Linked DNA regions of Homo sapiens: regions 1 and 2 are each reported to be linked to region 3. The links are microRNA targets in miRTarBase. Many come from high-throughput screens and were not tested one by one. Region 3 holds a microRNA gene; each other region holds the end of a gene's coding sequence.
What was found. Region 3 holds the annotated microRNA hsa-miR-3691-3p (ACCAAGUCUGCGUCAUCCUCUC, at 7,054-7,075, shown strand). A microRNA usually pairs through its seed, bases 2 to 8, with sites in the 3' UTR of a target mRNA and lowers its output. Matches are read on the target gene's strand: a 7mer-m8 pairs with bases 2 to 8, a 7mer-A1 pairs with bases 2 to 7 and ends in A, and an 8mer does both.

Region 1: the mRNA of CTTN is a reported target of hsa-miR-3691-3p. Seed matches in the 3' UTR shown: 7mer-m8 at 5,759-5,765.
Region 2: miRTarBase lists CORO2A as a target of hsa-miR-3691-3p. Seed matches in the 3' UTR shown: 7mer-m8 at 4,266-4,272.

What each region holds. Positions count from the first base shown.
Region 1 is chr11:70,430,626-70,441,577 of GRCh38, forward strand. CTTN (cortactin) reads left to right here. Exons shown (of 18, transcript NM_005231.4): 15 at 566-655; 16 at 2,476-2,653; 17 at 3,022-3,093; 18 at 4,401-5,950. The coding sequence ends at 4,537. Among named protein-coding and RNA genes, the nearest start is that of CTTN, 38 kb to the left of the region's middle.
Region 2 is chr9:98,119,872-98,125,475 of GRCh38, forward strand. It overlaps CORO2A (coronin 2A), which reads right to left. Exons shown (of 12, transcript NM_052820.4): 12 at 1,104-5,034. The coding sequence ends at 4,903. Among named protein-coding and RNA genes, the nearest start is that of TRIM14, 3.5 kb to the left of the region's middle.
Region 3 is chr6:5,144,369-5,155,320 of GRCh38, reverse strand. MIR3691 (microRNA 3691) reads left to right here and starts at 6,999; the gene lies at 6,999-7,088. All of the region lies in intron 2 of LYRM4 (LYR motif containing 4), which reads left to right. The region is part of intron 3 of LYRM4-AS1 (LYRM4 antisense RNA 1); the gene reads right to left.

The DNA of each region.
Region 1 (10,952 bases), not on the chromosome of region 3:
TGCGATGTCAGCAGCTTTGAGGGGCTATTATCCTACCCCAGTTCATCCTTTGGCCCCTAAAGCTTCATGTCCATCCCATGTGCAAACATACTCAGCCCATTTTAAGGTCCCCAAAGTCTCAACCCATTGCAGCATCAACTCAGACTCCCAAATCTGTGCCTAAACTATCTAATCGTGTGTGGGCGAGAATGAGCTGTGGCCCAGTCCCGGCACTGTCGCGTCACTGGCTGTGTGATCTCGGCCTCAGAGCACACCTGCCCCTCGAATCCTGCCTAGGTGCTGGTGGGATCTGAGGCTTGGTGCTCCAGCTCCCCTGCCCCTCGGATCCTGCCTGGGTGCTGGTGGGATCTGAGACTTGGTGCTCCAGCTCCCCTGCCCCTCGGATCCTGCTGGGGTGCTGGTGGGATCTGAGGCTTGGTGCTCCAGCTCAGCCTTGGTGTGGGTGTTTTCCACTCCTTTCCCCAGAGCATGCCTAGAGCTTGCACACGATCTTCTGAAACACGGCAGGCGTGACAGTGCAGAGTGTCATGGCAGCATTCTGATTGCTGTTTGTTTTCAATCACAGGAGCAAGCCAGAGCCAAAACGCAAACGCCCCCTGTGTCGCCCGCACCTCAGCCAACCGAGGAGAGGCTGCCCTCGAGCCCCGTCTATGAGGTTGGTGTCTTTGGTGTTTGAATGAGCGTGAGTGACTTACTGCCAGAGCCCAGGTCCTGTTTGTGGAGTGGAGGAAGCCCTTGCAGGCAGGCAGTGTGGCGTGGGTGTAGAGGGCATCGCTGCATTCCACGCCCGGAGAGGGGTGGGCCAGGAGCGCCTGGGGGGTGGGTGACATGCCTCAGTGCTGTCAGGGGATAGCTGTGCAGGCCCACATGCCATCCTTTCACCCCTCTGCAGCCTGTTGTAGTCTGGCCACTGTCACTGCAGTCCCTGCTGTAGTCACCTGCTATCAGATAATCAGATGGGGGTGTCTTCACCCCACTTGCTCTCTGCTGTGCAGGACGCCGCCTCACTCCCTAATGGCAGTGCTGCCCTCCTTCATCACTGAGCCCCTGCCTCCCGCACAATCTGCCTTCTATGCCTGCCCCATTCAGCTCTCCAGCCTTGCAGCCCCTCATGAGTGTGGCTGCAGACATGCTGTCCGGCCCCTCCCTGTGCTGCTGACCCCCTCTCATGGGTCCCCCAGTGTTCCGTCCCCATCCCTGAGTTACGGAGCCGCCTGCCGATGCCCCGCCCATCCCTGACTTTGGGTCTCCTGCTCCCCGCCAGCACCTCTGCGCTAACCACACCCTCTACCTGTAACCACCTCTCCTGTCCCCAGCCCTTGCCCTTTCTCCATCCCATGGCCATCATCCTGGTCTATGCATTCATCTCTGCTCGCCCAGGAGCCAGTCAGTTACAGGGGTCACACTCCAGACCATGGTAGTTCAGGAGCCCAGAGAGAGCCCTGGAGACAGGCCGGGTCTGGGATCTGGGCCTCGATGGCCGTGGCCTTGTCACCACCCGACTGTCCCTCCTTGGCTACGCTGCTGCCTGCTGCCTTTACCCTGCCGGGCCCTGGGGGGATGTGGTAAGTGAGGCCTTGCAGCTTGTCAGGAACCGGCCTCCCCCTCTAGTCCCTCCCCTTGGCAGCCAGCGCCATCTGCCTCAAGGAAGCTCCGACCCTGCCCCTCCCGTGCAGTTCAGCCCTTGTGTGGTTCCTGGTGCCTGTGCTGAGGGTGGAGTCGCTCTCCCTGCCCGATTACTCTCCCTGGCTAGCAGCTCTCCACCACTGGCTCTTCCCAGATCTCCTGGGTGCGCGGTTCTGAGCTGTCGGCATTGCTTTCTTTCAGTCACTGCCGGTGACATCAGGTGGACCCTGGTCAGAAACATTGATTAAAGCCACTGTCGGTGATAAGCAGTTCAGAATTTTCGCTGGGGCTCCGAAGCGGCAGTGGTTATAGATAGAGAGGTGTTCCACTGCGCACCTTTGTAGTTGAATGTGATTCTTTGGCGATGCCCTGTCTGTAGGCTCAGCTGCTCTGGAGCCACGTGGTGAAGCCGCTGTCAGGCAGGGCCAGGGTCGAGCAGCACAGGCAGGAGGGTGGCCGCTCGGCCCAAGGGTGCCTTGTGTGGCCTTGGAGATGAGGCCTAAAAAAAGAAATCAGCCAAATTAACCCAACAAAGACAGGCTCTACCCCCAGGCAACAGTGTGGGCAGGGGCGTGTCTCCTAACCTGCTGTGTGGGCGTGGTTATTGCAGGACTGGAGTGTCGGTGGTGAGGACCGGGTCATCATCGGGAAGGAAATGGCATGTGGGCACTCACCACCATGGTGAACACACCGGCAGGCCTGGCCTTCCTATACCGCGTCTGTTTTCTCAGTCCTGGCTGGGACTGAGAATTAGATGGCCCGTGGGTTTCTGCTGGCTGTGGCAGTACAGCTACTGCTCTCTAGAAGCCAGCATGGGCCCCGTGCCATGTGCGTGTGACCCTTCCCCAGGATGCGGCTTCCTTCAAGGCAGAGCTGAGCTACAGAGGCCCTGTGAGTGGGACGGAGCCGGAGCCCGTGTACAGCATGGAGGCCGCTGACTACCGAGAGGCCAGCAGCCAGCAGGGCCTGGCCTATGCCACAGAGGCTGTCTATGAAAGCGCAGAGGCCCCGGGCCACTATCCCGCAGGTACTGGGGCCCCACGCTGCAGCGCCCTGCCCAGGGCAGGGAGCTCCCGGGACATCCTGCTCGACCTGTGGCGTCGTTGCGAGGAGCGTGGGTTTCCCACTGACACGCCTTTGCTTGCTTGCTATAGGGTCTTCTTGTCCCTGGAGGGAAGTGCTCTAGGCACATTTGGGGCATCGGCTCCTGTGCTGGGTCCCAGGAAGATCCCCATTGTGCTGGGGACGGGTGGGCAGGGGCAGAGGAAGGGAGGGTTTCAGCTGCCGCCCTGTGTCCTTGAGACAAAATCTTAGGAAGTGTCGTCTAAAACTTGAGAAGGCTGGGAACCTGTGTGGGACTTTGTATTGTTCAGCTCTGTCATGGCTTTCTTTTAGAGGACAGCACCTACGATGAGTACGAGAACGATCTGGGGATCACAGCCGTCGCCCTGTACGACTACCAGGCTGGTGAGCGGCCTGCAAAAGCACTTGGAGGGGAGACCCAGGCAGCTGCGCCTGCCTCTGCTTGTTTTCTGAGAATTCACTTCTCTAGCGTTGTTAGTTTTAGAAGTAATTTATGTTGAGATAATTTCAGAGATATAGAAAAGTTGCAGGTATAGTGCCAAGAACTCCCATGTTCCCTACCCGGATTCCATCTCTGCACACACACGCACACACCCCCTGTTATCTTTAGTATTCTCTGAACCCTTGGAGAGCTGCAGGGGTGCTGCCACCCCCAAAGACTCCAGCGTGTTTCCCAAGATCAAAGATGCTGTCCCACAGGGACACCCCACCCTCCAGGTGAGGGGGCCGCACAGATGCCTTGATGTTCGAGACCCCATTCCTGCCTGTCCTGCCCCGGCCGCCAGCTCCCGTGTGGCCTGCACGTTCCCCTGAGTTCCCTTTGCGGCCTTGGCAGTTTAAGAGCAGCCTCAGCTCCTGGGCTGGCCTCAGCCGCCCGCCCCGTGTTCCCTCAGGGCCAGGCTGAGCTGTGCTCTGGTGGCGGTGAGGTCTTGGAGACCATGCGGTGGGGCTCTCTGCTGGGCCGCATAGCATCCACTTGTCCCTCTGTCTCAGCCACCACCTGGTCCACAAAGTCACCACCACCCCTCTGCAGTTGACAAGCATCTTACGGGTGGCGTGGGATTCCCCTCAGAACCCCCGGCCTCTGCCTCTTGAGTGCTTCCCGTTTGCAACTTTCCATCAGCGCGGAAGCTGGCATTCTACCATAAGTGAGCGCTGGCCGTCCCCGTTCAGTGCCTTTTGCACACGTGCATTTGCGTACACGCATGTGGGTGTGTCTGTGGCATCTCGGCACCTGTGCGTGGATTCTCATCACCGTGGCTTTTGCCCTCCATTCCCATTTCAGCCATCACCTCGGGCTTCTCTCCGGGTGTCCCCTGGCTGTCCTTCCACTGCGGCCTCCGCAGCCCATCTCCCCACCCCCTCCACAGACACGTCTGCCAGAGAGAGGGGAAGGGAGGGCAGGCGGGGCTGGAGTTATGTGGTGGAAACCTGCTCCTGAGGAAGGGGTCCGGGTGGGGTTGGTGCTTGTGTGAAGGGCTCTGTGCCTCTTTGTACTCTCTCGGTTCATGTTCACAAATCCTGGCCTTGGTGGCATGGGAGAGGCAGCAGGAGCCTCCGCGGTGGTCCGCATCTCTGCAGGGGGCATCTCTGAGCAGGCTGCCTGGGAGCTTGCTCTGGGTTGTGCTTTTTTTCTGGCAGACCAGGAAACGCTTGCACTTCAGCATCTTTCTCTGTGTTCTCTTCCCCAGCGGGCGATGATGAGATCTCATTTGACCCTGATGACATCATCACCAACATCGAGATGATTGACGACGGCTGGTGGCGCGGGGTGTGCAAGGGCCGGTACGGGCTCTTCCCAGCCAACTATGTGGAGCTGCGGCAGTAGGGCCCCCAGCCCCCCCCCGGAGCTGCGCCCTGGATCCTCACACTACAGATCAGGCCTTCTTTGGTTCTTGGGTGGTTTTGGGTTTTTTCTGTTTTTTTTTTTTTTTTTTTTTTTTTGAAGGTGGGGAGGGGAATATACACATTGCTTTTATATTTAATACTTTTGCTGATGCTTTTGAAAATGTTTATGCCACAGAATTTGCTAATATATTGTAATCACATTCCTTAGGAGGACTTTGGTAATTGGTTTTATGCATTGATGGTTTTTTTTTTCTTTTTTGCCAAATTGACTGTCACGCGGCAGCTTCAGGGAGCTCGCATTCTCTTGTGTTCGTGTTGCCCTCGTGCCCATCAAGTGCAGTCGGGACCTCCCAGGACAAGCACGAGGCCTCAGGTCGGCCCTGTGGCGGGTAGGCAGGAAGGACTGTCCCAGACGAGGGGCTTCCTCTAGAGTCTCACTGCTGGGGAGGAGAGGACTGGGCCTGATGGAAGTTAACCCGGAGCTAAGTCACCCAGAGCACAGGAGCTGCCATGTCAGATGGGAAATCTGCCTATGTCATACCGTGACAGCCCGCAGGATCAGGTGACTTCTAGCAGAGACCCTGGTTTTTTTCCTGTGCCCACTCCGGCTTGTCCTCATCTCTACCCATCCCCTGATGCCCAGGTCACCGGGAGGGCTGCTGGGAGCCTCTCCTGTCCCCGCCGGGCAGTGTCACTGAGTCCTTGAAATCCTCCCCTGCCCCGCGGGTCTCTGGATTGGGACGCACAGTGCAGTTGAGGTCTGCGTCGGGCTTGGCTTTTCACAAAGGCTGATGTCTTAACTGTCACCCATATGGTCCCTGGGCCACCGGGCAGCCTGGGGCGGTGTGTGTGCCATGTCACAGCATGGCCTCTCGGCCTTGGGAAGGAAGGCAGTGCCTGCTCTGCTGTGAGCCGCCAGGAACCCTCCTCCTGTCAATGGGGGTGTAGTATTTTTGCCAAAATATCATGTTCAATTTCAGTAGTTTGATCAGTTGAAGGCTAGAAGTGTGAAGTGCAGATGAGTGTGTGTTCTTCCCCAAGGTCCCCCCACAGCTCCAGGACACCGCTGTCCTGGCATTTGTGGCCACTCACTTTGTAGGAAACTCATCTCCTTCCTGAGGAGCCGGGAGGCTGGACCAGTCCCGTCGTGCAGTCAGGTGGGCGGTGTGTCTTTCCAGAAGGTCACGTGGAAATGTCTCGGGACTTGGGTCCCGGAGTGCCCGTGAAGCGTGTTTTTGCTCCTGAGGTGCATTTTCTCATCATCCTTGCTTTACCACAATGAGCAATGAGGTCGGGTTTTATATGCAACTTATTGTATCTGAATTCCTGTAGCACACCTCATAGGTATGATTTTTTTAAATTAAAGAATTCAGAATAAACATTTTTTGATCCACTTGCGTGATTTGCTTTGGTCTGTGGTCACTCCGTTCTGCAGTGGAAGCTGCGTCGACACTCTCGGTGTCCTGCGCCCCGGACCTGGGCTGGCGGAGGCTCTCCTGCCGTCCAGTGCGTCTCACGCGTTCTGTTCTGGCTTTAGACCGAACCGTACGTTCCCTTTTCAGTGTTCATTCAAAGGTGCTGCTTATGAACTGAAATGTGTTTACTCTGGCAGATGATTCAGTTTTTTGCACAAAGGTTCCAAGCAAAATAAAACACTCTGTGCTTAAAAGTCATTTCTGAATTACAGTTCTCAAATCCTGAGGGGGATTTTGCTCCCAGTCTCGTTTTGCTCAGGGGCACCAGAAGTTAAAGGCTAAGGGGAACAGTGGCACTGAGGGAGCAGGTGTGCCCTCGGGAGCCGGGGGTGCTGGGGAGCTGGGTTCCGGCTCACACTTCTGCCCATCAGGTGCTCCCAGGGAGCTTTCGGCTACACGACATGCCTGCTACCCCTTCCAACCTGGGTGGTGACGGAGCACTGCCTCCTCCCTTGGGCTGTCCCACACCTGCCTCTGGCTTAGGAAACAGTGCCTCTGCCAGCTCTGCCCACAGGAGCCTAACGTGAGAGTGCCCCCGCCCTCCTGCCACAACCGGGCTGCTGTGGGTTCTGCATCACAGGGTTGCAGCCCTAACGGCGAGCCCCGTCCCACACAGGGCCTGTCTGCTGGGTGAGATTGCAGCCACCTGCAGGGAGCTGAGTCCTGAAGAAATGAGGCATGAAGGCTTGTGAACCAGGGGAAAGTCCCAGCCAGGGTGGGCAGACGGGGTCAGGGGGCTGGAGGACAGGGTGTGACGAAGGGAGGGGGCCATGCAGAAAGGGCCCCCGCTGGCCCACTGTCTGCCCAGTCGGTGTGTGCCTGTGCCGCCTGCGGATGAGCATGGCAGGGGCTCAACAGGAGCGGGACACATCTTGAGTGGGTCTGTGTTTCTGTTCTATTGGTGGCCAAGCGTGGCCTGGCAGCTTGAGTGCCTGGAGCCAACCACCTGAATCTTAGCCGCTTTCTTTTTAGATGTGGTTGGGGTTTTTTGTTTCTGTTTCTTGAGAAAGGGTCTTGCTCTTTCGCCCAGGCTGGAGTACAGTGGCGTGATCTCCGCTCCTGCAACCTGTGCACCCAGGGCTCAAGCAATCCTCCCACCTCAGCCTCCCAAGTAGCTGGGACTACAGGTGCATGCCACCACACCTGGCTACTTTTTGTATTTTTAGTAGGGACGTGGTTTCACCATGTTGCCCAGGCTGGTCTAGAACTTCTGACCTCAAGTGATCTACCTGCCTCGGCCCCCCGAAGTGCTGGGATTACAGGGATGAGCCACCGTGCCCAGCGTAGATGTGGTCGTTTTAATGTCAGCTCACCGTGCCTTCTGTCTCAAAGTTGGATTCACTCCCCAAGTCCCCTCTGGCCTGAAGAACAGCCTAGGGGCATGCTTGCCTGGGAGCAGCTTGCTCTCAGCCTGCTGGAGGAGGGAGGGCAGGACATGGACGTGCTTTTCTCTCTTGGTGCCCAGACATGGAAAACGATTTTGTGGCACATAGGGAGCCGTCGGCACACAGGCACCTCCAAGAGCCACTGGAGCCACTGCTGGCCACTCTGGGCGCTCAGATGTGGGCACAGCATGGAGAGTGCTTTGTCGGGGTGAAAATGCTTACTTTGCTCCTGGAAGATATGCTGGCGAATGCTTCTTCAACCCAAGATGTTCAGAGTGGCTGACATGGTATTAACTGTGCACATACTGTGTGCTGGGCCTTGGAGGGGAGATGTTGAGTAAGAGAGATGGCTCAGCACTGGGGAAGCTGACACAATAAATCTGATTCCACCACTGTGCTGATTTTTATTTTTTTAATCAATTTATTCTTTTTGAGACAGAGTCTTGCTCTGTTGCCCAGGCTGGAGTGCAATGGCACAATCTCAGCTCACTGCAACCTCCACCTGCCAGGTTCAAGCAGTTCTGCCTCAGCCTCCCGAGTAGCTGGGACTACAGGTGTGCACCACCACGCCTGGCTAATTTTTGTATTTTTAGTAGAGACAGTTTCGCCATGTTGGCCAGGCTGGTCTCAAACTCCTGACCTCAGGTGATCAGCCTGCCTCAGCCTTACAAAGTGCTGGGATTACAGGCGCGAAGCCACCGCGCCCGGCCCCCACCACTGTGTTTAATTCTAACCAAGGAGAAGAGGAAGTTCTGAAAGGAGAACAAGGAGATCTGAGAACACGGCTCGGGCCTGGCCAGGGGCCTCTCAGAGGAAAGCTCTCCCTGTTGCGTCCCTCCACGCCAGGGCCTGCGTGGAGTGGGCACGGTTTTTGATACCTGCCTTGCTGACCTTCAGCTCCAATTTCTTCATCTGAAAGTGAGGATAAAAGAATTAACCCCTCTTTCTAGTCAGATGCCTGCTAGATCCATTTACCTGCTTGAATTTGAGATGTATTGCCAGGATACACCTCCACAGTCTGATGGAACACACTGAAGATATCTGAACAACAAAAGGTAACAATAGATTTTAATAATTTTTACTTGTTTTGCCTGAAACATGAGGATTCTCCCCTTTTCTCATCTCAGTCCCATGTTTTTTGGTTTTGGGGTTTGAGACGGAGTCTCACTCTGTTGCCCAGGCTGGAGTGCAGTGGCACAATCTGAGGTCACTGAAGCCTCCGCCTCCCAAGTTCAAGCAATTCTCCTGCCTCAGCCTCCTGAGTAGCTGGGATTACAGGCACCTGCCATCATGCCTGGCTAATTTTTGTATTTTTAGTTAAGATGGGGTTTCACTGTGTTGGCCAGGCTGGTCTTGAACTCCTGGCCTCAAGTGATCTACCTGCCTCAGCCTCCCAAAGTGCTGGAATTACAGGTGTGAGTCACCGCACCCGGCCCCTCAGTCCTGTGTTTTGAATTCTGTTGTTTCTTTTCTCCCATTTTCCCTCTGATTATTTCTTCTGACCTGTTTGACCTCCCATGGGAAGACGAGCTCTGCTTTTGATGATGATTGTGAAAATGCACACAGACAGCAACATAGTCAAAGAATTCTATGTTGTGTGATAAGGTGCTTTTTTTTCCTACCTACTGTCATTGTTATAATAGTGCTTCTTCGATTAAAAACCATTTGAGACAGCTCCGTTGTCATTTGTGAGCTGTCAGCTCGGCCCAACTTAGCTATCTCTGGATTTAATGTTTGTTCATATTTTCTGTGAATTACACCTCCTGCTATTACCTAGGAATAGAGCTGTCCCTCGGTACCTGCAGGGGATTGGGCCCAGGACCTCCCTCCTGTACCCAAATCTGCACATACTCAAGTCCCCCAGTCCCCTGCAGAACCCACATCTATGAAAAGTTGGCCTTGTGTGTGCAGGCTTTGCATTCTGTGAATACTATATTGTTTGTTGTTTTTGAGACAGGGTCCCTGTCACTCAGGCTGGAGTGCAGTGGAGTGACACCATCATAGCTCACAGCAGCTTCCACCTCCCTCACTCAAGCAATTTCCTACCTCAGCCTTCTGAGTAGCTGGGACCACAGGTGCACACCTGCCATGCCTGGCTAATTTTTTTTTTTTAGGTCTTTGTAGAGACGGCATCTCACTATGTTACCCAGGCTGGTCTTGAACTCCTGGCCTCAAGCCATCCTCCTGCCTCAGCCTCCGGAAGTGCTGGGATTACAAGTATAAACCACTATGCCCAGCCCGAATACTGTATTTTTTATATGTTTGATTGAAAAAATATGCGTATAAGTGGACGCTCACAGTTCACACCCTTGTTCAAAGGTCAGTTGTGTTCTCCTGAGTAGGTTGTGTGAATGAGATGCACGTGAGTCCCTGCAGGCCCAATCTCCCTCTGGTGGGCAGAATCCTGGCCTCCCAAAGATGTCTAGATCCTAATCCCCAGAACCTGTGATGATGTTACCCCGCATGGCCAAGGAGAATTAGGTAGCAGATGGAATTAATGTTTCTAATCAGCTGGCCTTCAAATTGGGAGATTATCTTTTCAGCACATGGCACTGGGAAAGTGAAATTCACATGCGAAAGAGTGATGTTGGTCCCTTACCTTTCACCAGACAGAAAAATTAACTGAAAATGGATTAAAGACCTAAACACAAGACCTAAATCTATAAAACTCTTAGAAGTAAACGGGGAAAGCTTCATGACATTCATGATTTGGCAATGATTTCTTAGATACGCAACCAAAAGCACAGACAACGAAAGGAAAAATAGCTAAGTTGGGCCGAGCGTGGTGACTCACGCCTGTAATCCCAGCACTTTGGGAAGCCGAGGCGAGCGGATCACTTGAGGTCAGGAGTTTGAGACCAGCCTGGCCAACATGGCAAAACCTGTCTCTACTAAAAATACAAAAATTAGCCAGGCGTGGTGGCACGTGCCTATAGTCTCAGCTACTTGGGAGGCTGAGGCACGAGAATCGCTTGAACCTGGGAGGCGGAGGTTACAGTGAGCCGAGATCACGCCACTGCACTCCAGCCTGAGTGACAGAGCAGGACTCCATCTCAAAAAAAAAAAAAAAAAAAAAAAGGTAAGTTGATTGTCATTTAAAAAACAGCATTGAAGGACATAACAATGAAAAGGGAACCTAGAGAATGGGAAGAAATATTTGCAAGTCATACGTCTGATAAGGGGGTAATGTCCAGAATATTTAAGGAACTACAGCTAAACAACAAACCCAAAGCATTTAAAAACGGGCAAAGGATTTGAATAGATGTCTCAAAGAAGATACACAGATGGAAAACGAGCAGGAGAAAGGATTCCCAGCATCACCCATCATTAGTGAAATGCAAATCAAAACCACATGGAGGCTGGGCACGGCGGCTCACGCCTCTAATCCCAGCACTTTGGGAGGCCAAGGCGGGCGGATCACGAGTTCAGGAGATCGAGACCATCCTGGCAAACACGGTGAAACCACGTCTCTACTAAAAATACAAAAAAATTAGCCGGGCATGGTGGCGGGCGCCTGTAGTCCCAGCTACTCAGG
Region 2 (5,604 bases), not on the chromosome of region 3:
GTGGCGCCATCTCTGCTCACTGCAAGCTCCGCCTCCCGGGTTCACGCCATTCTCCTGCTTCAGCCTCCCGAGTAGCTGGAACTACAGGCGCCCGCCACCACGCCCGGCTAATTTTTTGTATTTTTAGTAGAAAAGGGGTTTCACTGTTTTAGCCAGGATGGTCTCGATCTCCTGACCCCGTGATCTGCCCGCCTCGGCCTCCCAAAGTGCTGGGATTACAGGCGTGATCCACCGCGCCCGGCCAGATCGTTTTAAAATAATAATACTTGGTTACAAGAATTAATACAGGTGGCTTCAGTCCAAAAGTTGAACAGGCAGTTGCTGGGCAGATGTCCTCATATCATGGCTTTTGTGCAAGGTTGTGGTTCTTTGTGCAAGGTTGCAGTTTGGTGGAATCTTTTGCAATAATAGTTCCTGTTACCAGGCAAATCGTTGATGAGGGCCCCCCACTTCATGGCCTCCCAGCACCATTTAGTTTGTTTGAGACAGGATCTCGCTCTGTTGCCCAGGCTGGAGTGCAATAGTGCGATCATAGCTCACTGCAGCCTCTAACTCCTGGGCTCAAGTGATCTTCCCACCTCATCTCTGGAGTAGCTGGGACTACAGGAGCACCATTTAGTTTGGTTTTGATGTAAGTGACTCTGTTTTGGTACTGACAACTTTCACACACACACCACCACCCCAAATTCCAGTTGCCCCCCCAGGCTCAAGTCTAGACTTCCACTTATAAAGCCCTCAGCTCTTTCTTAAGATCCTTGGTCTCCGCCCTGCCTATGCTCCACCCTGTGCTTTTTCAAGACTGGGGGACGTGCAGTTTACCCTGCTTGGAACATTCTTCTTCCCAAATGCCCTTTGCCCTGAGTATTCCAACTTACTCTGCAGGTTTCTACCTTACTATCTTTTCCTCCAGGAAGCCTTCCCTCCTTCTCCTTCCAGAACAGCCTATGCTTTCCCTATCCTGGCCCTCCCCATTCCCGCAGCCATGACTGAAAACTGGAGAGGGCAAAGACTGTCTGTTCTGCCTGTTTTCCAGCTTGGTGTCTGACTCCAAGAGTAGATAGTTAATTGGTATTTGTGGAACAAATCAAGAAAAGGAAAGCTCCTTGTAGTAAAATGGCCAGATGTTTATTATTTTGTTACATTATTTCCATTGCATATTCCACATCTATTTATTTTCACTTTTATTTATTATCATTATTTTTCACAAAGGTACAAGGAATTTCAGAAACAACATTAAAACAATCATTCAAACTGTTTCAGGCACGGTTTCAATTAAAAGCATAGATTTGATTTCTGACTTCCTGTTTCCTTCTATGATACAATCTCAAGTTTTGTTTCAGGAAGCACAATTATTGTAGCGTTAAGGTGGATACCTGCCAAAGCTCATCTCCTAGTGCTGTCCTCATTCTCAGAAAGTTCCTGAGTCAACAGAAAGGGGACGCCCAGGGTATGGAATAAGGAGATGAGAGCATGCTCTGCCAACTGGCTGGGACCTGAATGTGCTAGGCAAGTTCCACTACATCAGCTCAAGAACATAAACAAAAATGTAATTTAAAAAACAGATGGTTTAAAAAAATATCTGATAAAAATTACCTATCCCTCTCCCTTGCTGTGAAATAATTTAAATAATTTATTCTAGATGTAAAAATAATAATACAAAAAAGTTTGTTCAAAGACACCTGTGTCCTGTTTGTTAAGTGTGCAGTCTGGGTCCCTTGGGGTGGAGGGAGCTGGCCAAGGAATGGCATTGTGCAGAGGCATACCGGGAAGCTCTCTGGATGCAACCCCACCTCTACCGCTTGGCAGTCAATGACCTTGGCATGATGTTTCTTCACTTCTCTGAGGCTAGGTCTTTGATTCTGAACATGGGGACTGTAATGCCTGCCTGACCTGTGTTAGAACAGCATGTGTCACTGAGTGGAGGTGGGAGGAATTTGTAAACTGTGAAGTGCTAGCCACACAGGTGGGAAAGGTAAGCCTATCCTGTAGAGCTCTGCTGCCCTGACAATGCCTGGGATTTGGCCTTCTTTTCTGGAGCACACTAAGGCAATCTTGGCTAGTGCATCAGACGGGAGTGAGCCCCAGTGACTGAGTAAATGGAGAATAAGACAAGGAACACGAGCATCCGGCCTGTGCAGACATACAAGCAGAATAAACCACAGCTGGGTAAGGGGCAAACAGGGGCACTGAACCCCCATCGTGCTGCAGCTGCGGTTCCCAGAGATGTTGAGGGAGGGCTTGGGGCAACACTTCTGGACTTTTAAGGAGCCACCAGGCAGGACTTAAGAGATCTGGGTTGAGTCCCAGCTCCTGTCTGGAGCTTGCTGTCCTCTTCATCTTTATTGCAAATAGGTACACATGCAGTCTTCCATCTTCACTGTACTGCAGATCACCTGTGGAGCTTATATGACCATACAGGCCCTACTCTGGAGATTCAGCTTCAGTTGGTCTGGAATGTGGCATGGGCATCTGTATTTCCTGCACGCTCCCAAGGGAATTCTAATGTACACAGCTTGGGTTGAAACCTACCAGACTAGGTGGCCTCCTGCAGTCCCCACCTCAGCTCCAGAATCTAATCGCCCTGTGCAATGGAGATCATCTGCCCCTCCTTGGTAAGGAGGGACCAATTTCACTTCTAATCATTCCCAGTCTCTTGGTGGACTATTGTATTGACCACTGAACTTTAGAGTAGGGCTCGGAACACAGATTCACTAAGGAGGGACAAAGAAAAGCTTTCAGGCTAAAAGGGAACTTTGGGACCATCTGGTACTACTTCTTTACCTCGTATAGTCATTTCAGAAGACCTCCTGGTTAGGTGGCCAGAGGCTCTGCTGGCATGTCTCCAGTGATGGGGGCCCCCTACCTCCTGGGGGACTCTTCTGTTAACTAGGGCTGAAATCTGCCCACATCATCCTGCAGGAGGCAGGCTGTGTACCTGAGGGCCTTGGTGGTGGCAGTCAGCAGTCATGGGCACAGTTCTGAAGTCTGCGTCCCTCCATAAGGGACAGCATCTATCCATATCAGGCTGATTCTGGTTGGAAAGGTTGGTTTTGACCACCTGCCTGTGTTGTAGAATTGGGTTGAATGCCTCTGACCCCTTGCCAGTGTCCGTTAGTTTCTGTAGCAAACCCAGATCACCCCACAGGTAGTTTTCTCTTAGGTCAAGGTTTCAGGTGGCAGATCCTGCAGAGAGCAGCTTGTTCCAGGGTACCCCTGGTTCAGATGAAGAAACTGAGACCAGAGAGGGCAGGACTTGCAAGAGGTCACTGAGTAAGCTGGGGCACAGCTGAGGCCAGAAGCAACAGATTTCTACTCTTTGGGCTGAGAACTGCATCAGACCCAAAAGAGCAAAAAGACAGACCCAGAAAAGCAGGATCTCAGCCCAGCCCTGCCATGAAACAAATATCACTTGCCTCTCTCTAGGCCTTAGTTTCCCCAGCTGTAAAATGAGGAACTTGGGTCAAATCACTAGCTTTCAAACTTCTAAAAAAATTTTTTTTTCCTAGCAGAATTGTTTTTCATACTAGCCCAACATATAAAATAGAAGGGAGCTGTCTGGTTGGAATACAGTGTGGGGAAGGGAGACACAGCCTTCCTGCTTAGTCTTCCCCTATTCTCTCTCTCTTTTTTTTTTTTTTTTTGGAGATGGAGTCTCGCTCTGTCACCCAGGCTGCAGTGCAGTCCGCAATCGTGGCTCATAGCAACCTCCACCTCCCAGGTTCAAGCAATTCTCCTATCTCAGCCTCCCGAATAGCAGGGACTACAGACGCTCACCACCACGGCTGGCCAACTTTTTTTTTTTGAGACGGAGTCTCACTCTGTCACCCAGGCTGGAGTGAAGTGGCATGATCTTGGTTCACTGCAACCTCCGCCTCCCAGGCTCAAGCGATTCTCCTGCCTCAGCCTCCCAAATAGCTGGGATTACAGGCATGCACCACCATGCCTGGTTAATTTTTTATTTTTAGTGGAGACGGGGTTTCACCATGTTGGCCAGGCTGGTCTTGAACTCCTGACCTCAGAAGATCCGCCCAGCTTGGCCTCCCAAAGTTCTGGGATTATAGGCGTGAACCACCACGCCCTGCCTAATTTTTGTATTTTTAGTAGAGACGGGGTTTCACCATGTTGGCCAGGCTGGTTTCTTTCTTTTTTTTTTTTTTTTGAGACAGACTTTTGCTCTTATTGCCCAGGTTAGAGTGCAGTGGCACAATCTCAGCTCACTGCAACCCCCGCCTTCCGGTTTCAAGCAATTCTCCTGCCTCAGCCTCCCAAGTCGCTGGAATTACAGGCGCCTGCCACCACGCCCAGCTAATTTTTTTGTATTTTTAGTAGAGATGGGGTTTCACCATGTTGGTCAGGCTGGTCTCGAACTGCTGACCTCGTGATCCACCAGCCTCGGCCTCCCAACATGCTGGAATTACAGGCGTGAGCCACTGCGCCTGGTGAGACTGGTTTCAAACTCCCGACCTCAAGCAATCCGCCCACCTCAGCCTCCCAGAGTGCTGGGATTACAGGCATGAGCCACTGCGTCTGGCCCAGTCTTCCCCTATTCTCTGGACCACAGTTTGAAAATCACAGACAGGTCAACCTAGATCCTTCCAGCTCTAGTTTTCTACTGTGTTCTTTCCTCTTGAGAAGTTACAGCTCATCATGGGCCCTTAATAACAGAATTCAACAGAAGGCATCATCTGAAAACAAAGTCAATTCAGAAACTGTTGTTGCAAGAAGGCAAACAGAAAAACGGCACCATGTCCCACTGGAATCTCTTTCAGCGATGGAGAGTTTTGTTTTCTGGTAAAAAATATAGAAATAGTGGTTGTCCTTGAGGGGACTTGTGGTTTGGTTCTAAACCTCCCCATGGAGCCGAGTGGTGTCCCTGAGGGTGAGGAGGGCAGAGGTCTCTGCTCAGAGCTGCTCTGAGCCCATCCGCAAGTTTTTGATCTCCAGTTCCAACTGTTTGGCCTGGACCTCTCGCTGGGTCAACAGCTCCCGGAGCCTTCGGATCTCCTCCTGTTGCCGGTAGAACATCTGCAGCAACTGGGGAAGAAAGATCGGAAGGCAGGATCACCATGGTGTCAGGACACCAGCTGAAAGCTAAACCACTATCCCTCTTTGACTCAGAAAGGTGGAGGCGGTCACATTAACATGGCTGAGGCCTGATGGGGCTGTCACTGCATAGATCTTTTACAAACACCTTGTTTACTTCACCCAATAAATGAAATTCAAGAAGACTGGAATGTTTCAGATGTATTTTGCTTCCATAGATCCTCCATGAAATAGAGGAAAGGATGCCTGGCTCTGAAGTCTGGGGATTGGTGTTTTCGCCACCACTGAACTGTGTGACCTTGGGCAAGTTACTTACCCACTCTGAGCTTCCATTCCTTCCTCTGGAAAATGGGGTCAGAAAACTGCCCTCTGTGCAGAATGGGTGTTAGATATTGAGTGATGCCCTAAGGGCCTCGTTATCCCACTGGAACGTTGTGACACCCCTATAAGGGTGGCAGTGCTAGTGTCCCCACCGTACCACCGTGGAAACGGAAGCTTAGAGACATTCAGTCTCTGGGTCTAAGACCCTAAATTAGTACTCAGCAGAGCCAGGATCAGAAT
Region 3 (10,952 bases):
TCACTTGAGGCCAGGAGTTCAAGACCAGCCTGGCCAACATGGTGAAACCCCCGTCTCTACTAAAAATGCAAAAATTATCCAGGCGGTGGCGCATGCCTGTAATCCCAGCTACTCAGGAGGCTGAAGCAGTAGAATTGCTTGAACCCGGGAGACAGAGTTTGCAGTGAGCCAAGATCACACCACTGCACTCCAACCTGGGCAACAGAGCAAGACTCTATCTCAAAAAAATAATAATAATAAAAGATCCGTCTCACAGTAGGCAGGGTAGGGGACTCAGTAATTCTGTACAGAAAAGAAGCAGTGCTTCTGTGTCACTCTTGCTCCGTCTATGCATCCCATCCACCATCCTGTTAGAACGGCATTGTTTATTAAAAGTCCCAGGCCTGGGGTGAGGAGACCTGAACCCTGATGCCCCCCTCTGACACTGTGTAATTTGGGTGAAGTTACTGCACCTTTGTGAATCCGCCTTTCTTTTTTATTTTTATTTATTCATTTATTTTTTGAGACGGAGTCTCGCTCTGTCGCCCAGGCTGGAGTGCAGTGGCGCGATCCCGGCTCACTGCAAGCTCCGCCTCCCGGGTTCACGCCATTCTCCTGCCTCAGCCTCCCGAGTAGCTGGGACTACAGGCGCGTGACACCACGCCCGGCTAATTCTTTTGTGTGTTTTTAGTACAGACAGGGTTTCACAGTGTTCGTCAGGATGGTCTCGATCTCCTGACCTCATGATCTGCCCACCTTGGCCTCCCAAAGTCCTGGGATTACAGGCTTGAGCCACCGCGCCCGGCCGAATCCGCCTTTCTTTTTAATCTGTATGAGGTGTTGGGTTGTCTTCTGATGTTTCCATCTGTGTCCTGTGTGATCGTAGATACTGCATGCCACTCTCTGTCCAGCACGTGATGCCCTTTGCAACCTCCTTTCTCACCCACCCTGGGGCTTGGGAGCTGGAGATGGGGGAATAGGGGTGGTCAGTGAAATATTAAAAATCAGACTCCTATAGACACAGTTTGCAGGTGTTATATGGAGTTCCTTCTACTGTTTCATTCTACTGCATTACATTTTTATGTTAACTTAATAGGCTAATATTTTATGAACTTGTAAGATTGAATATATGGAATGAAATCAATGTTTCTGATAATTACTTGATGGGGTGGGGAGTTTCAGGAGAAAGTCATTTAAAACCTCCAGACTGATATTGATTAAAATTAGTGGCTTAAAGATTTAGAATATCTAATTTATAGGGTTTTTTTCTTGGTTGACTCTATAACTTAGGTAAAAAAATGTTTCCGTAGCTTTTATGATAACATTTAGCAGGTAATTTTCTTTACTAGATGTAGGGAAGAGCCAGCAATTTACAATCAGAGCATTCCATATATCCCTGTTTAGGGCGTTTCAGGGTTTATTGCTGCAATTTAGCATTTTTATCTGGGATGTTCAACTTCTAAGGGACGGGCTCTCTGTTTGCTGTTTTAAAATTATTAGAGTCTTTCATTGTATCTGTCTGTATTCACAGCATATATGGTCATTTCATTTGAGTGTTCATGAACAGCCCTCAATATATCAGTGATTACTTTATGTGTCGAGCACCGTACAACAGTGGTTGCCAGTTCTGACTACACATCAGGATGTATTTTTGAAGACTTACAGAGGTGATTTTGTTGAGCATCACTGTTGAAAACCACAGGTTTTCCAAGAGTGTCCGTGTGTATTTCACATGGCTTTACTCGTCAGGAGGTACTGGTGATTGCCTCTTTCACAAAAGAGGAAACTGAGGCTCTGGAAGGTTCTGTGAGTTGCCCCCGGTCACACCGAACAGCAGCACTTCATCAAGTTAGTTTCCAGATGTCCAGCTTCTCTCTGCCCAGCTGGGCAGGCACAAGAGACTTGCTGTGTTATGACCTGGTGTCTTAGTTTTGTTTAAGATTAGCAAGGGCGCCAGGTGTGGTGGTTCACACTTGTAATCCCAGCACTTTTGGAGGCTGAGGTGGGCGGGTCACTTGAGGTCAGGAGTTTGACAGCAACCTGGCCACCATGGCAAAACACCATCTCTCCTAAAATATAAAAATTAGCCAGGCGTGTTGGTGCACACCTGTAATCCCAGCTACTCAGGAGGCTGAGGCAGGAGAATTGCTGGAACCCAGGAGGCGAGGCAGAGCTGAGATCACACGACTGCACTCCAGCCTGAACGACAGAACGAGACCCTCTCTCACACAAAAAAAATAATAATAAGATTACCAATGGTTCAACAGAAACAAAACCAACAGCCTAGTGTATTGTGACAGTCCTGGGACACAGAGGCAGAATTAGGTACGTACTGCCTTCATTTAAGGAACCTGCAAGCCCAGCGGCCTTAAGTATGCTACTAAGGATATAGTACTAGTTGTCACATAAATAAAATTCTAAATCCTGTCATTAAATAAGCCACCCTTATGCCTTTCTCATCTGGCAGCAAGTTTGTCAGCACAGGGCAGTGGGTAAAGAGTTGCCGTCTGCTGCGTGTTTCCATTTGCCCCGTGACCTAGCCTGGAATTCCTACCAGCCAACAACAGAGGAGGCCCAAGAGGAAGGCTTTCCCCAGAAACACGCAGTCCCATCCCCTGGAAACAGTTCCATGAGCACATTAGCTTAGCTGATTATGAGAGTAGCTAGGCATCAGCTCAGGCACTGAGTAAAGCAGACCTTTGTAATGGGGCTGAGGGAGGAAGCGTGTACAACAGAGGGGAACAGCCAGGCCGGAGACAGACACGCAGCTGGGGCTGCCTCACTTCTCCGTTTGCCTCCACCAGCCATGCCTTCTGACTGGACATTTTCACCAAAGAAGATACGATGGGGTATAGTTTTTAAAAAAATATTAGAAGGATGGCAGATTATTAAAAGCCAGCTCTCGCCCCCTATTTAATCTAGTACGTCATGCCGGCACTGGAGGTAGTACATGTGTGTCATTCATTGTTTGTGGGTGTTTCCCCGAGTGACATAGTTGTCGCTTAGTTGCCGCTTTCCTAGGAAATGCTTTTGGCATCACATACTTGCCTGCAGCTGATCAGGGAAGCAGCTTGGCAGGGCAGGAGAAACACAGAGCTGAGTCTGCCGCTCTCACTGGCGTGCTAACCATGGGCAAGCTGCTTAGCTTCTCAGCGTCATGTTGCTCCTCATCTATAGAATGAAGTTGGGTCAGTGATTTTTCTCTAAGGTCCTTTCCAGTTCCCATACTTAGTGGTTCCAGTGATACATATTGACAAGAATATGGTATCATTCTTTTATTCATTCATCAAATATGCGTGAATCACCCATGTCTGGGAGCTTGCTAGATGCTGTGAGCAATTGCAGCAGTGAATCCCACAAAGATCCTGCTTTCCTGGAGCCTGTCATCCAGCCAGGGAGACAAAATGGGGGCACACAGGATTCTCCCAGAAAGCAAAATGGGAAAAATACTGGTAGAAAAGAACAAGGAAAAACTTATCTTCTATTTGTTAAGCCTCCCTCTGTGCCCTAAAGACTCTATTTGATAATTTATGGACTTTTAATTTAATTATGACAGTAATCCGGTGAGGTGGATTTTATTATCCCACTTTATAGATAAGGAATCAAACATTCAGAGAATAAATAATCTGCCCCTAGTCATGCAGCTAGTAAATTGAGCCAGGATTTCAGAACAAGCCTTTCTGCTTTGAAAGCCCATCCCTTCTCCATTAGAACATGCTGCCTCCTGATAAAATGCTTGGCGAATTGATACAGGAGATAGCATATGCCACCGAGGGCAGGATAAGCATTTTCTGGTAGAGGAGCCGTTTGCTCAAGGACCGAGAAGTGGGTGGAATTGGCACGTGTGACTGGGGAGAGGATTTCCTGGAGGCAACAACTGTGAAGGAGTCGGGGCAAACCCAGTGAAAGGGAGATGGGCCAGGCAGAGACTTCAGAAATTATTTAAAAGGCATTTTGGAGGCCGGGTGCGGTGGCTCATGCCTGTAATCCCAGCACTGTGGGAGGCTGAGGCAGGCAGATCACGAGGTCAACAGATAGAGACCATCCTGGCCAACATGGTGAAAACCCGTCTCTACTAAAAATACAAAAAATTAGCTGGGCATGGTGGCACGCATCTGTAGTCCCAGCTACTCAGGAGGCTGAGGCAGGAGGATCCCTTGAACCCAGGAGGCGGAGGTTGCAGTGAGCCAAGATCGTGCCACTGCAATCCAGCCTAGTGACAGAGCAAGACTCCGTTGCAAAAAAAAAAAAAAAAAATTCAAAACAAACAAAAGGCATTTTGGAGCCCCTGAAGATTTGGAGTAAGAGGTTAAATAAGTAAAGGTCACTTCTAGCCATGCCATGAGAGTACTAGTGTAGACACTGATTAAATAAGCTGATAGGGGCTTGAATTGAAGATTAAAAGTCAGGAAGGGAGAAAAGAAGACATGGAAGAGAATGCTATACCATTCTCATAAAGGCTGTGTCATCAGAAATAGCAAACTCAAACTCAGGAACAGGAGCCAACCTTAGAAACACATTGAGGACTCTGATTTTAGTGACTCTAAGCTGCAAGAGATTGGTTCAGCTGTAGTTCTACAACTCAAGATAGTAGTCAGAGCCTGAGCATGCAGCGGTTACACGCTTGCAGGGGAGAGCTGGAGGCTCGATTGAGAATTAGTAAATGCATGACACTCTGCTGCTCACAGAACATGTGCACATTTGCTATCTCAGATGCTTTTCAAGGTGGCCAAAGGAGAGACCACAAAGAAAGAATAATTATGTTAATAGCTAACAATTAGTGAGGGCCTACTGTGTACTAGGCACTGTGCTCAGGATTTTGCATACCTCAGACCTCACCTCCCTATGAGGTGTCATTATTATATCCCATTTGCATAGAAAGTACCTGAAACCAGGGTATCCATGGTCACAGAACTAATACATGGCCAAGCTGGGACTTGAACCCAGGTCTGATGGCCTAAGGTCCCCAGCCTTGGTTAAACAGAGAAGGAAAGGAGGTGCAACAATAGGGGAAAATCAGAATCCAAAAGAAGAAAAAATTGCAAGGAGGGCAGATATGGTTGGTTTCTCTGTTTATTCGTTTGCCATTAGAAACTTTGAGAATAAAGGTCCAGAATGTAGTTGATTAAAATAATGTACACCTGGTTCACCACTGTTACTGATCACCTGCCTTCTACAAAGCTTACGTATTGAGCTTTTATGGGACAGATGGGCTGCGGTGCATTACTGCCTCTTAATACCCTGCTTTACTGTAGCCTGAAACAAGGGTGGCTGTCTGAATGTCAGCGAGGACTTGGGGATGCCAGAGGCATGCTGCTGTGTTCATCTGCTTCTGTGCATAAAGATTTAACATTTGACGTTTGCCCTTTGTTACATTTATCCTAGAGTGTCTTAACATTATTTTAAAGTGATGGATGTTTTGCTCGTAGGAAATCATTCAGAGGTGTAACAAACGTAGTACCATGATGAACTAGTAAGACGACATGTTCTGGGAATGGCTTGCACCTGCCTGTTGTGCATATGTGTGTCCATGTGTGGACAGGCATGCTTTTAAGTGGAATTGTGTATCTGATGTTTACGTATCTAAATAATGTATATATAATTTGGTCCAGATTTTCTATTACCTCATAGTTTTATTATTCCAATGAGAACTTTATAAGAAGCCCTCTGATATCCTCATCTCCACAGTAGTCAGGGACTTCAGGGTTCCTCTTCCCACCCCCACCCCCAGAAGACATACCAAGATTTTCAGATTAATGCTTCCCCTAATTCTAGAGTATTTTGGAGAATATCTCTCTGGAGAAGCAATAAGGATCAGTGGTTTGAGCTACGACTTTGAAAGCAGACATGTAAAGAGGTTTGAATCCCAGCTTTACGACATGCTATCTGACCTTGGTTAACCACTGAAAATCTCCCTAGCCTCAGTTTCAGTGTCTGAGATAATGAGCCTGACACCATCCTTGATATCTGTGTCCTGGGGACCTGGAGGAATTAATGAGCTGATGCCATAAAATACCGATCCTGGGTTGAAGGGCCTCTCCTGTGAGGTCTTTCTGTTGCAGTGCGTCTTTGTTAGCAGGCTTTTCCCACGTGTCGGGGCTTCTTTCAGGCCCTCATTTTAGTGTTATCACCACATTAGTGCCTATTTCACTTATTTTTGAAAACCTGAAAATATCATACATACTGATGGAAATTTCATTGAATATTAATGAACACTCAGAACTGTACCTGCAACAGAAAGCGAAATTGGCTAAATATTACTCATCCAATCATTTATCTGAAAGATGGTGTCATTTTCCAATCCTAAAAATATAATAATTAATGTGAAATTTCAGGTTTAAAGTACAGTTTTAAAATATCAAGCAAGCATCATGTCAAAAATGAAATTTTATTAAAGGAGCTATTCTAGACGATTAAGAAATGAAAACTTAGAGTTCTAGGGGAAAAATTCAGAACCACGTTTAATTTTATACTTGGAAGCGCGCTACAAATGACAAGGTAATTTTTATATGTATATTTATAGATTTAATTAGCAGTTATTCCATTATATCTTTCATATAACTATAAATGGAAAATGATTTCAGACAAGAGGCTCTCATCTTCAAGAATTATTGTTGGTAAAGTTATGGGAGAGCTGATTTCTCAGTCACTATAAGCAGAGAGAGAGAGAGAGAGAGAGGTGTGTGTGTGTAAAGGTCATTACCTGTCACCTAATATGAATTCTTTCATTAAAAAATACTTTCTATAACTTTTCTCATTTTCTCATCCATGTTTTGCACTTGAGACTATTTAGAAGGCACCATGACTTGTTCAAGGCGTATACCCAGCCCAGCTCAGGATTACGATACAGAGTTCTAACTCTGCCCCCTCAGCCCAGCTCAGGATTACGATTCAGAATTCTAACTCTCCCCACACAGCACGGGAAGTCCTGCATACCCTGCTGATCTGTGGGTGTCACATAGCCTTGAGGCTCATAAAGGTCTTTGCTTCTCCTTCCTGCTTTTACGTTTCAGTGAATATTGAGGCACTGGGTAGTGGATGATGGAGACTCGGTACCCACTGCTGAGGGTGGGGACCAAGTCTGCGTCATCCTCTCCTCAGTGCCTCAAACGGTCTGGGAGCCAATGTTCAACAAACGAGCATGCGGGTGAGTAAAACACAACCAGCTGTAAGACGTGCTGTTCAAAAGGGCGGGCTGGGAGGGTGGCCGGGACACCAGTCACGGATGTCTTCTGTGAGCAAGAGCTCTTTCATCTGGGACCTGGTGATGAGTAAGGTGACGTGAAGGGAGAGTGGGGGAGGGCAGGTGGCCTGGGGAGTGCTAACGAGCTTGGTGTGTTCTGGAACTGAAAGAAGACAGAGATTGTTTTCCCGCTCCATGTGGAGAGAACCAGTTGCCCACTAATTTACAAAAGGAAAGTCGGACAGTAATCTCTCATCAGCGTGGCTATCAATGAGACCTGGAGCTTCCAGGAAAATTTGGCTTAATAAGTACCATACTGTTACTTCCTCGGGAATATTAAAAAGGAAGGAGCGATGAGACAGAAGGGCCTAATTCACCCTGCCGTGGACCACGTCTGACTTGGCCTGCTAACAAAGCATGTTTAGGCAGTAGGGAGAGAACCGAGGGGAGATGGACGTCTCTACATGGAAATATTTTCTGAATGTGAATTTTAGTATCCCTGTTTCCTGTCTTCCTTCAAAGATGAAAAGGAATCCATGTATAAAACAGGTAGTCACATGAGCATATGTAAAGTTTGGTTAAGCAAATTCAAGGACTTTTTCTACTTACCTAGGGCCAGTATATTCTGTGGACATTGATAACCCATAGTTTCAACTGTAACCTCACATTGATCCCCAGTTTTCAGAGAAAGAGGACACCATCTACTTCTGGTCACTGGCATTTTAGGTGAAATCCTGCAGTGATTGTTTACTGGTAGCCTAATTAGGTACGTTATCCATTATTTAACCCAAAATCCAGGTTAAAATATGACATCAGTGACTTTAGCTAGACCATAACTACACACGTTTACTTCCTGGAGTCATTAAACTGCTTAAAGAAAACAAAATCCCAGCACACCCTTGTTTTGTTAAGGTAACAAAATGAGCTCGTATCAAACATAAATACAGGTTTAAATTACTGTAAAATTTTTTTGTGGACTCAAACACAAACATCACAGCAAAGCTTACCTGTGACCCAATTAGGATCATCATGAAAACATAAATCCCAGTTCTACTCAAGTAATACCAATGGCCTGGTACCAATGGCTTCCAGCAGGCCACTGGGGTTTGACTGCCAACTAGGAAAAGCCCCTGCCTCTGGGGGATAGATGATGGGGAAATCATTCCATCCATCTCAGTGCTGAGCTCTCACATGCTCTTCTGCTTTTCTGTAAATTGACCTAAAATGGCCATCTTTGATGGTCTCTCACTTTCCCTCTAAATCCCTGATGTGAGAATGTATTGGAATTATTTCATGTAACAGTGTGTCTGCCCACAGACCGGCCTCCTGGCTCCAGCTTAGCAGTGTCCAACAGTAAAAATAGAAAAGCCCCTGAGTCTTGTCTTCTTTTGAGAGGAAAGAACCCTTTTGCAGAAGGCCCAGGAACCCCCTCCTCTAGCCACTTTGGCCAGAGTTGTGGTATGCAATTATTCCTAAGCTGTTCACTGGACAGGTAGCTGGGCCCCACCACAACTGCCTAACGTCAAGCAAGATTGATGCCTGGGGGCTGTGCTGGGAAGAGGCCCGCTTCAGGGGGAAATTGGGGCTGTGTTGAGAAGGAAGGAGGGTAGCTGTGGAGTGGGCCACTGAGTGGGGCCTGCGTTTCACAAGCATTCCAGGTCCTGCCTGGGGGTATAAATCCTGGCTCTCCCTTTTCCAGCTCTATGGACTGCACAAAAGTATAATACTATCTAACTTCTCGGCATTTCTGTTTTTTCACCAATAAAAAAAATGAAGGTAACAATACCCCCTCAGAAGATAACATGCGAGCAAGATGGAAGCACAGACCTGGCACAGGCCCATTCTTTACTCTGAGTCAAGTCTAGTCTCCTTAGGGACAGGGCATCAATAAGGGACCCCTCAGCACCTTGCACGATTCATTTAGTTCTCAGGAATTCATTTGCTAGGACTGAATACGGGAAACATGCTACTAAACTGCCCCTGAACTCACAGGCTTGTGATGTGTGGTGGATGAGACACAGCCCGTGCTGAGGCAGGCAGGTCTGAATCCAGTGCCAGAAGCACCATGTGCCATGAGGTGGCATTCGAATATTTGGAGCAATGAAGCGATCTCATTGAATGTATATATATGCTAGAGGAATTGCAATCATGAGAAAAATTAATTGCAGAGTTGATCGTAGAGGCATAGTGTCCAGGCAGAAACCTAATCCAAGCAAGAGATCATTTGACGGCTGAGGGAAGAGAGAGCCAAGGGGAATGGAGTGGAATGGAATGGAATGCAGGAACTCTAGAGGGGATTTAAAGGCTGAATATGCTGGTTTGCGGGCTTGAGTTAGGAGCCCACCTCTAGCAGTCAATATTACTAGAGCATTGGTGGTGAAGCCGTGGGTGTAAATAAGACCACGTGAAGTGGGCGTATATTAAAGACATATTGGTGACCTTTCTGATGTTTTCTACCATTTCATATTAATAGGCATGAGGATCGAAAATAGGAAATGATTTTTCTTTTCTCCTCCCTGGCAGCCTTCTCTGCTGTGATGTTTTTTCCTCATAAGGCTGGGGTCCTATTGCTTTCCCTTCTGATGAAGCTTTTTTATTACTTGGTGGGTAGAGGGCCTTAGGTGTGGCAGAGAAATTCCGCAGCCTCGCCCTCGCCGTCATAGTGATGAAGAGCGTTGACTCCGGAGTCACCAAGGGAAATTAAGCACATGTTTTATTAATCTTTATGAACCTCAGTTTCCTCTCCTGCAAAATGAGAACAATACTGGTGCCGACTTCGCAGCACTGTTTGCAGCGTGAGGGCGATAAGGCACTTACACAGGCGCGTGCCCCCCACATGGAAATGCCTGGAGATGCTGCCGGCTCCTCCACTCACCGAAACTGCACTTTCTCTCCTTTGTTCTAAATGAGAAACCAGGTGTGGGGAGCAAATGGGAGAAAGGGGCAGGAGAAGCTTGCCTCAGATTCCAACTCATATGACCTGTCAGTGACTAAAGACGGAATGCCAACACATGGATTGTGTGTGTGAAATGCCAGGTTGGTGTTTTCCACAGGGATGTGCCCGTTGTTCTCTGCTTTCTGTGGAATTCTCTTCCAGCGCCAGGCCTGGAGATGGGGCCTGCCCTTTTACCTCTCAAATATGTTCCCAGGGAAGAGTGTGTCCTTCTCCGGGAGCCACCCCATCACACTGACTCTCACTTTGGGCTCATTGCTAGAAACTCTGTGGCCTGCGCCTGCTTCCCATGTCGCGTCAAAGCGTCTCAGCACAGACCTAAAGGAGACCTCAGAGGTCACCCAGCGTGGCCTCGCAGAAACACCTGCGGGAAGGGATTACGGAGGTTTGCAGGGAAGGCCGGGCAGCCCGGGAGTGAGCGCCGCACTGCAGCTCCCAGACACATGCAGCTCCTGCTCCCAGGCAGGAACAAAGTGATTTCCCAGCTCCTGGGGCCATGGGTAGCTAACTGATTAAATACCCGGTTTGGAAAATTCACCTGACGTATTTCTTTTTTTTTTTTTTTTTTTTTTTTTTTTTTTGAGACGGAGTCTCGCTGTGTCGCCCAGGCTGGAGTGCAGTGGCGTGATCTCGGCTCACCTCCCAGGTTCACGCCATTCTCCTGCCTCAGCCTCCCAAGTAGCTGGGACTGCGGGCGCCCACCGCCATGCCCGGCTAATTTTTTGTGTTTTTAGTAGAGACGGGGATTCACCATGTTAGCCAGGATGGTCTCGATCTCCTGAGCTTGTGATCTGCCCGCCTCAGCCTCCCAAAGTGCTGGAATTACAGGCTTCAGCC